2 linked regions of the Homo sapiens genome follow. The protein of the gene in region 1 purifies or fractionates together with the protein of each later gene. This does not show direct contact. Each region holds a gene or a part of one and is shown on either strand. Other genes may lie near its edges.

Region 1 (3,943 bases):
CTGACCTCAGGTGACCCACCCACCTCGGCCTCTCAAAGTGCTGGGATTACAGGCATGAGCCACCACACCCAGCCACAGTTTCCATATCCTGTGTTCCTCTTCCTGGAAGATTCTTCTTAGTGGTCTCAGCTTCCAAGTCCCATTCCTGAGCCAGCCACTCTTAGAACACCCGGTTCACAGGCCAGCAGGTCTTTACAGTCTAGCGTTTTCTCATTTACTGGTCGCTCTCCTGAACTCGTTCATGAAGCAGGCATAAGGTAGCCTTGGTCACTGCTGAATTTCCAGCACCCAATATGGAGCCTCAGTAACTATGTGTTGAATATCAAGGTGGCCCATGGAGACTGTGGGTGGAAGAAGAACCCCAGGTGCGGTGGGCGGGAGATGAGGCTTTTGCTCGTTCCAAAGGCCAGGAAGGATTTAAGACAATGGATGGGGCCAAGAAAGGGCTATTTTTTTTTTTTTTTTAGAGAGACAGGGTTGGCCAGACGCAGTGGCTTATGCCTGTAATCCCAGCACTTTGGGAGACCGAGGCAGGTGAATCACACCTGAGGTCAGGAGTTCCAGACCAGCTTGTCCAACATGTCAAAATCCCATCTCTACTAATACAAAAAATTAGCCAGGTGTGGTGGTGGGCACCTGTAATCCCAACTACTTGTGAGGCTGAGGCAGGAGAATCACTTGAACCTGGGAGGCGGAGATTGCAGTAAGCCAAGATTGTGCCACTGCACTACAGCTTGGGTGACAGAGCAAGACTCCATCTCATAAAAAAAAAGACAGGGTCCACTCTGTAGCCCAGGCTGGACTGCAGTGGCACAATCATGGCTCACTGAAGCCTAAACCTCCTGGGCTCAAGTGATCTTCCTGCCTCAGCCTCCTCACTAGCTAGGATTACAGGCACATGCCACCATGCCCAGCTGATTTTGTATTATATGTAGAAACAGGGTCTCACTATGTTACCCAGGCTGGTCTCAAACTTCTGGCTTCAAGTGATTCTCTAGCCTCAGCCTCCCAAAATATTAGGATTACAGGCGTGAGCCAGCATGCCTAGCCCAAGAGGGGGCATTCTAAGTGAGATTGTTCTGTGCCAAGTTCCTCTGCCACTTTTAACATCAATTCCCAGTTCCCAGAGTGATTATGAAACCCGACTCTGCCATTTCCTTGTTGTGTGACCTTGGATACATTCCTTAACCTCTCCAAGCTTCATATCTTTCTCTGTAAAATGAAAATACTAGGCCGGGTGCGGTGGCTCACGCCTGTAATCCCAGCGCTTTGGGAGGCAGAGACAGGTGGATCACCTGAGGTCAGGAGTTCGAGACCAGCCTGGCCAATATGGTGAAACCCTGTCTCTGCTAAAAATACAAAAAAAAAAAAAAAAAAAATTAGCCAGGCTTAGTGGTGGGCGCCTGTAATCCCAGCTACTCAGGAGGCTGAGGCAGGAGAATCACTTGAACCCAGGAGGCAGAGGTTGCAGTGAGCTGAGATCGTGCCATTGCACTCCAGCCTGGGCGACATAGCAAGACTCCGTCTCAAGTAAATAAATAAATAAAATAAATCAGGTCATGTTGTTATTATTATTTTTGTCTTTTTATTTTTTGTAGAGACAAGGTCTCGCTATTTTGCCCACGCTGGCCTAGAGGTCCTGGGCTCAAGCGATCCTCTTTCCTCAGCCTCCCAAAGTGCCAGGATTACAGGTGTGAGGCACTGCGCCCAGCCTGGCTGCTATGATGATTAGGAATAACTCTGAAGTCTATGAAGGGTGCAGCCCCTCCAGCCTAGGGGTGGGGGATATTTGCAGACATGGACTTTCTTTGAACAGATAGGGAAACTGAGGCACAGAGAATGGAAGTGTCTTCCCAGAGGTCACAGAGCACCTTGGCAGCAGAGCTGGGACCAGAGATCAGGGGAATGACCTCCTTCCACATCTCTGTGAAGAACTAAAGTCAGATGGGGGTTATGGGCAGGGAGTGAGCCCTTTAAATCCTAAGCTCCACCTTTACTTAGAAGAGTCTCTGGGCGTTATAAAAGGGGATGCAGCTCCCTTCTGCTCTGGGAAACGCCTGCTGCTCTTGCCCTTGCCCACGGGCCCCCAGCCCCAGCCCCTCTCCTGTGGCCCACCACCCCTGCTTTGGTGCCATGCAGCTGCCACCCTTCGACATGTGGAAGGACTACTTCAACCTGAGCCAGGTGGTGTGGGCGCTGATCGCAAGTCGGGGTCAAAGGCTGGAGACCCAAGAGATTGAGGAGCCAAGTCCCGGGCCTCCGCTGGGGCAGGATCAGGGGCTGGGGGCGCCAGGGGCCAACGGGGGCCTGGGGACCCTGTGCAACTTCTGCAAGCACAACGGGGAGTCCCGCCACGTCTACTCCTCACACCAGCTGAAGACACCGGATGGCGTGGTGGTGTGTCCCATCCTGAGGCACTACGTGTGTCCCGTGTGCGGGGCCACCGGTGACCAGGCCCATACGCTCAAGTACTGCCCGCTTAACGGTGGCCAGCAGTCCCTCTACCGCCGCAGCGGGCGCAACTCGGCCGGACGCAGGGTCAAGCGCTGAGCATCGTGAGATGCTCACCACCCGCACCCCTGACCCTCCTGGTCCATCCCACCCAAGTCCCTAAACTCTCTCTTCCAGTCACCCAGCCCTTTGGAATTTCTGGCCCCCAGAACTCCACCCTGGCTGGATCCTGAAACAGTGGAGGCTGCTGGGAGCCAGGCCAGCCCCGCCCCCTTGGACCTGTCAGCCCTCGGAGCTCTGGCCTGTGGGCGTTGGCCTGAGGGTCCTTGGTGCCGCGGGAACCCTTCCTGCACGGCCCTGTAGCGCCCTCTGGGCCCCGGTTCATGGATCTTTTGTCCTCGTGGGGCCTGCTGGTGACTGGAGCCCTGCCCCTTCGACTTCTCTGTTCCTTGTGGAGTTCTTGGATTTTTGAACCTCCAGGATTCCACGGTGCTGTCCCAAGCCAGCCCTTAGGAGATACTGAACAAGGCTGGCTGAGAAGTGCCTACTCAAGAACTTCAAGATGGGATGTCGACTTAAGACCAGCCTTCTCCATCTTCAGCCTCCTGCAGAACCACGGTGTCATCGTGGACCACGCCTGTTCATTCCTTCCCTGACCTCAGTACCCATCCGTCAGGAGCGGAGTAGGACTCTGGAGAGCACCGTATCACTGGAGGGCACCGTGTCTTCGCAGGCTCACCTGTGGATGGAGAGCCGTGGGGTGAGCTGACACCTTTCAATGCCCCCTGGTTGTTCTTCCCCTTGTTCAGCCCATTGCACCCGGTACCTGCCCCCATCCCCAAATCACCGATGGGTCCTTTCCCCCAGCGAGAAGCATATCTCTCGACCACCTCCCGTCCGACCCCCCAAATCGTGATAGTTGACTAAAGGACATTTTTTTTTCCTCCTGTGTTTTTCAACCTCCAACGTTCAAGTCAAGGAACCGCCGATAAGAAGGGGGTTTGAGTACCCGGATGGGAATGGCAATGGCCTAGCTTTTATTTTAGGGGCAAAGAGAAGAAGGGCCCCCGTCAGATTTTAAGTTGTTCAGTTTTTGGCACAGGGTCGGGACCCTGAGTATTGAGCTCTGGTGAATAAAAAGGTTTTCTAGTCGTCTTTGAAATGGCTGTATCTGTTTCCGTCTTTGGTTTGTTTGTGAGACAAGGTCTTGCTCTGTCGCCCAGGCTGGAGTGCAGTGGTGCGATCTTGGCTCACTGCCCGGATTCAAGTGATTATCCTCCCTCAGCCTCTTGAATAGCTGGGACTACAGGTGCGCCCCACCACGCCTGGCTAATTTTTTTTTTTTTTTTTGAGACGGAGTTTTGCTGTTGTCGCCCAGGCTGGAGTGCAATGACGCGATCTCGGCCCACTGCAACCTCTGCCTCTCGGGTTCAAGCGATTCTCCTGCCTCTCAGCCTCCGGAGTAGCTGGGATTATAGACATGCACCACCAC
Region 2 (3,600 bases), on another chromosome or scaffold:
AGTTTCATTTATCGCTGGGGTGGAGGGTGGGTGTTAAAATTTTGAAAAAAGAGAAAGACCTGGGTGGGTGTAAACCAGGGCATCCTCTATATTCTCTTCGCTCTCTGTCATTTCTGTTTCAATTACACAGCTGTCAAACAGGTTATTCCTGGAATTCAGATTTTATAATCCCCACACTGTAATTCTTCCTGCTGCTGTTGCCCAAACACACACTCCTCCCTGCTTCCCCAAAATACGTATCCATCAATAGAAAGGATGACAACCACAGTTATAAAGTATTCCCAGGTAACGCCAAACTCCCCACCTTGAGCAACTGGCAAGCACTGAGTGGAGGCTGAAACATGATGACAATTTTCACGATGGCCAAAGCAGTGGTTTAGGATCGTCAGAGGCAAGGCCCGCCTCCACTGTATTTCAATTTACACACAAACTCAGAAGGCCGGATTTGGGGAAAAAAAGAAAAAATTCAGGTTGTCTTATTTTTAAAAAATGCTTTTCCATTTTATCGAAGTAAAGTGCATGCCTAAGAGTGTAGCTTATTTCCTTATCTCAAAGCCAGGAAATGAGGTCTTTTAAGGCCAGTCTGAATATAAACTCGGTGTGCAAAAACAGAGGGACTGCAAGGCGAAAGAAACCCCTCTCCCAACTTTGGCCAAGCGGCGTGGCCTCCAGTCAGCAGCATGTTTATCACCCTCTCCTCGTCCCCCAATAAGAAGTTTCCACATGCCACGGGAAACAAAGAAGGCGCCCACACCGACCTTATAGACTTGTCCATAGGTGCCATTTCCAACCACTTCCACCAGCTCAAAAATCCCAGCAGGATCCTGGAGAGGAAGGAGGGGAGGGGTTATCATTTAAAAGAAGCCAAAAAAATGAATAAATCAAGCAAGGCAGTTGGAGAGAAAAGGCGGTGACAAAAGAGGTGGGCTTCGCCCCGCGCGGTCCCCCAGCGCCCGGGGGTCGCGCGGCGGGCTCGGGGCGTGGGGGCGGTAGAGGGTAGCGCCCGCCCCGCACCAGCCCGCACAGGAAGACAAAGGGGCCGCCGCGCCCCGCGGCTCTGCCCACGGCGGCGCCCGAGCGCCCGGCCGACCTGGGCGCGGCCCCGGCTGCCGGCTGCCGGCTGCCCGCTCCCCGCGCGCCCGCTCGCGGGCCCACTCACCCGCAGGGAGGAGAGGTCGATGTCCACCAGACTTTTTGCAGGGGAGTCGTTCGCCATTTTCCCTTTTTGCCACCAAAAAACAAATAACAATAAATGTCTCTGTCGCTCTGTGTATCTCAGCCGCAGACCAGGCCGCCGACCGCGCTCCTCGCGCGGCAGCCGAGCCGGCCCGGTACTCTCCTCGCGGGGCCGCGGGCGGCGGCGGCGGGCTCGGCTGCGCTCTCGGGCCGCTCGGGGCTCTCTGCCGGCCGGGCCGCGCGGAGGGCGGACGGAGCGTGCACGGGCGGCGGCGCTCACACCATGGCGCGGGGCCGGCCGTCAGGCCCCCGGGCGTCGCCCGCCGCCTCAGGCCCCGGCGCCCGCGCCCCGCGCCGCGCGCCTCGAGGACGGGCCCGGAGCGTGGGGCCGCGGCGGCGCCGAGTTGAGCGAGTGAGCGCGAGGCAGCGAGACAAAGATAACCCGGGAGGCGGAGGCGGAGGCGGGGAGCGAGGTGGGGAGGGAGGGGGCGGCGGCGGCGCTGGAGGAGGAGAAACGGGACACCAAAAATATATTCTGAGGAGAGAGAAAACAGCTCCCCCTTTCCTCCTCAGGCAGGAAAAACCGGCGGAAACGCACTCACACCCCGAGCCCTGCCGGGTAGGGCGCGGGCCGAGGCGCCCGCGCGGCGTGAATATTCATCAGGGGTGGGGCTCGAACAATGGCCGCGCCGGCGGGCAGCGCGGGCAGCGGTCCCGACACGACGCCCGGCGCCCAGGGTGCGGCCTCCGCGCTCGACCCCGCACGGCGCTCCCGAAAACTGCAGGAGCGGGGAGGAAGCGGGCTGGGATTTCCCCGGGGAGGAGCTGGGGTGGGGAAACGCCCCTACCTCGCGCTAACAACAAATGACACGAAACTGAGCTGGACCGACACTAAGAGGCCATGGACCCTCGCGTCTCCCAGGGCAAGGGTGTGTCCCGCCGGCCGCGTCCCGGCTCTAGAGGGACCCGAACCCGGTGTTGCCGAGCGGAGGAGGGGCCTCCCTCGATCCTCGCCCCCTCCTCGCCCCATTCGCCCCATCCCCCACTCTCCCACACCCTAGAGAGGAGACCCTTAAGTCCCTCGTTTCCGGCTTCCCTGCACGGTTTTCTTTTCCTTTCTCTGCTTTTGCAGGCTAAATGTGTGGTACGGTTGTGGTTGTAGTTGTGGGATTCGCTGAGCATCGCTGGGCTGCCCGGCCATATCCAAAACAGCTCCTGTAATTGTCTGGCGCTGCGCTCCTGGCTGCGCTCGGTAGGTGAGCACTGTGTTTGGGGCCCTTAGTACCAACCCGCATTTTGTAACCTGGAGATCACTAAGGATCAACCAACAGGTTTCTTCCGGCAACCTCGGAAGCCAGTCGGTAGTTAGGCACTTTAATGCCAGTGAATCAACAGTCATTTATATCGCATTCCTCCACCGTCCAAAAACTTTCAGTGGTTCCCTGTTACCTGACAGGTGTTCTCAAAACGTGAGTGCTTCAGGCAAAGTGCCAATTGCCTGGCCCTGCCTCCCGAGTTCTCGTTTCAGGAGGTCTGCAATGGGCCTGAGAATGTGCATGTGTAAGTTCTCAGTGTAGCTAACGTCGCTGTTACAGGGATCACTCGTTGACAACAGTGGCCTCCGGCTATTCATGATTGGATTTTCATAAACATCACCATCATCATCTACCAATTCTTATGCACATACTGTGTCTCCCCCACACAAACGCGTTGTGCCGAGTGCTTTACACACAGCACTCTATTTACAGCCTTGAAGGAATGTTATCCTCCTTTTAGGTAAGGAAAGCAAAGTACTGAAAGATAAGGAGTATGTCCAAATTCCTTAAAAGCACAGCCTGGAAGTGGAGCAGGGATTTTCACCAGGTTAGCCTGTTCCCAAAATCCAGATCTCTGATTCAGCCAAGTTAGCTCTACCCAGAATATGTATAGCACTATCCTGCTTCCCAACAGTTTGGTTTCTGAAATTTTTGACTATGAGAATCCCTGGTAAGGGTAAAATATATAGAGGGGCTCCTGGTATCCATTTGTAAGGAAAATTATAGTAACCAAGTATTCCTATGAATGTATTGGTGCTTTTAGATAATTTTGGTTTTTGTCAGCAGCAATGTCATTATCTATGAGTGTAAATAAAATAATTTACTCAGAGAACTAGACAGAAACACATCTGAACTTTCAGGCTATCTTACTATTGATAACATTGTTTTTTGTTTGTTTGTTTGTTTTGAGACAGAATCTTGCTCTGTCACCCAAGCTGGAGTGCAGTGGAGTGCTCTCAGCTCACTGCAACCTCTGCCTCCTGGGTTCCAGCAATTCTCCTGCCTCAGCCTCCCCAGTAGCTGGGACTACAGGTGCCTGCCACCATGCCCAGCTAATTTTTTATTTTTAGTAGAGACAGGGTTTCACCATGTTGGCCAGGCTGGTCTC

What was found. Proteins that work in one complex are often made in the same cells at the same time.
Region 2: the proteins of NANOS2 (region 1) and MAP4K4 purify together in Homo sapiens (affinity purification with mass spectrometry; 2 studies listed by BioGRID and IntAct, with this or other methods). This does not show direct contact.

Annotation. Positions count from the first base shown.
Region 1 is NC_000019.10:45,912,884-45,916,826, reverse strand, and holds NANOS2 (nanos homolog 2), read left to right. Parts: upstream 1-2,048; 5' UTR 2,049-2,133; coding exon 2,134-2,550; 3' UTR 2,551-3,613; downstream 3,614-3,943. UniProt on the Homo sapiens protein: Plays a key role in the sexual differentiation of germ cells by promoting the male fate but suppressing the female fate. Represses the female fate pathways by suppressing meiosis, which in turn results in the promotion of the male fate.
Region 2 is NC_000002.12:101,695,697-101,699,296, reverse strand, and holds the start of MAP4K4 (mitogen-activated protein kinase kinase kinase kinase 4), read right to left. Parts: upstream 1,591-3,600; 5' UTR 1,217-1,590; coding exon 1,160-1,216; intron 1,033-1,159; exon of another isoform or gene 855-1,032; coding exon of another isoform or gene 825-854; coding exon 759-824; intron 1-758.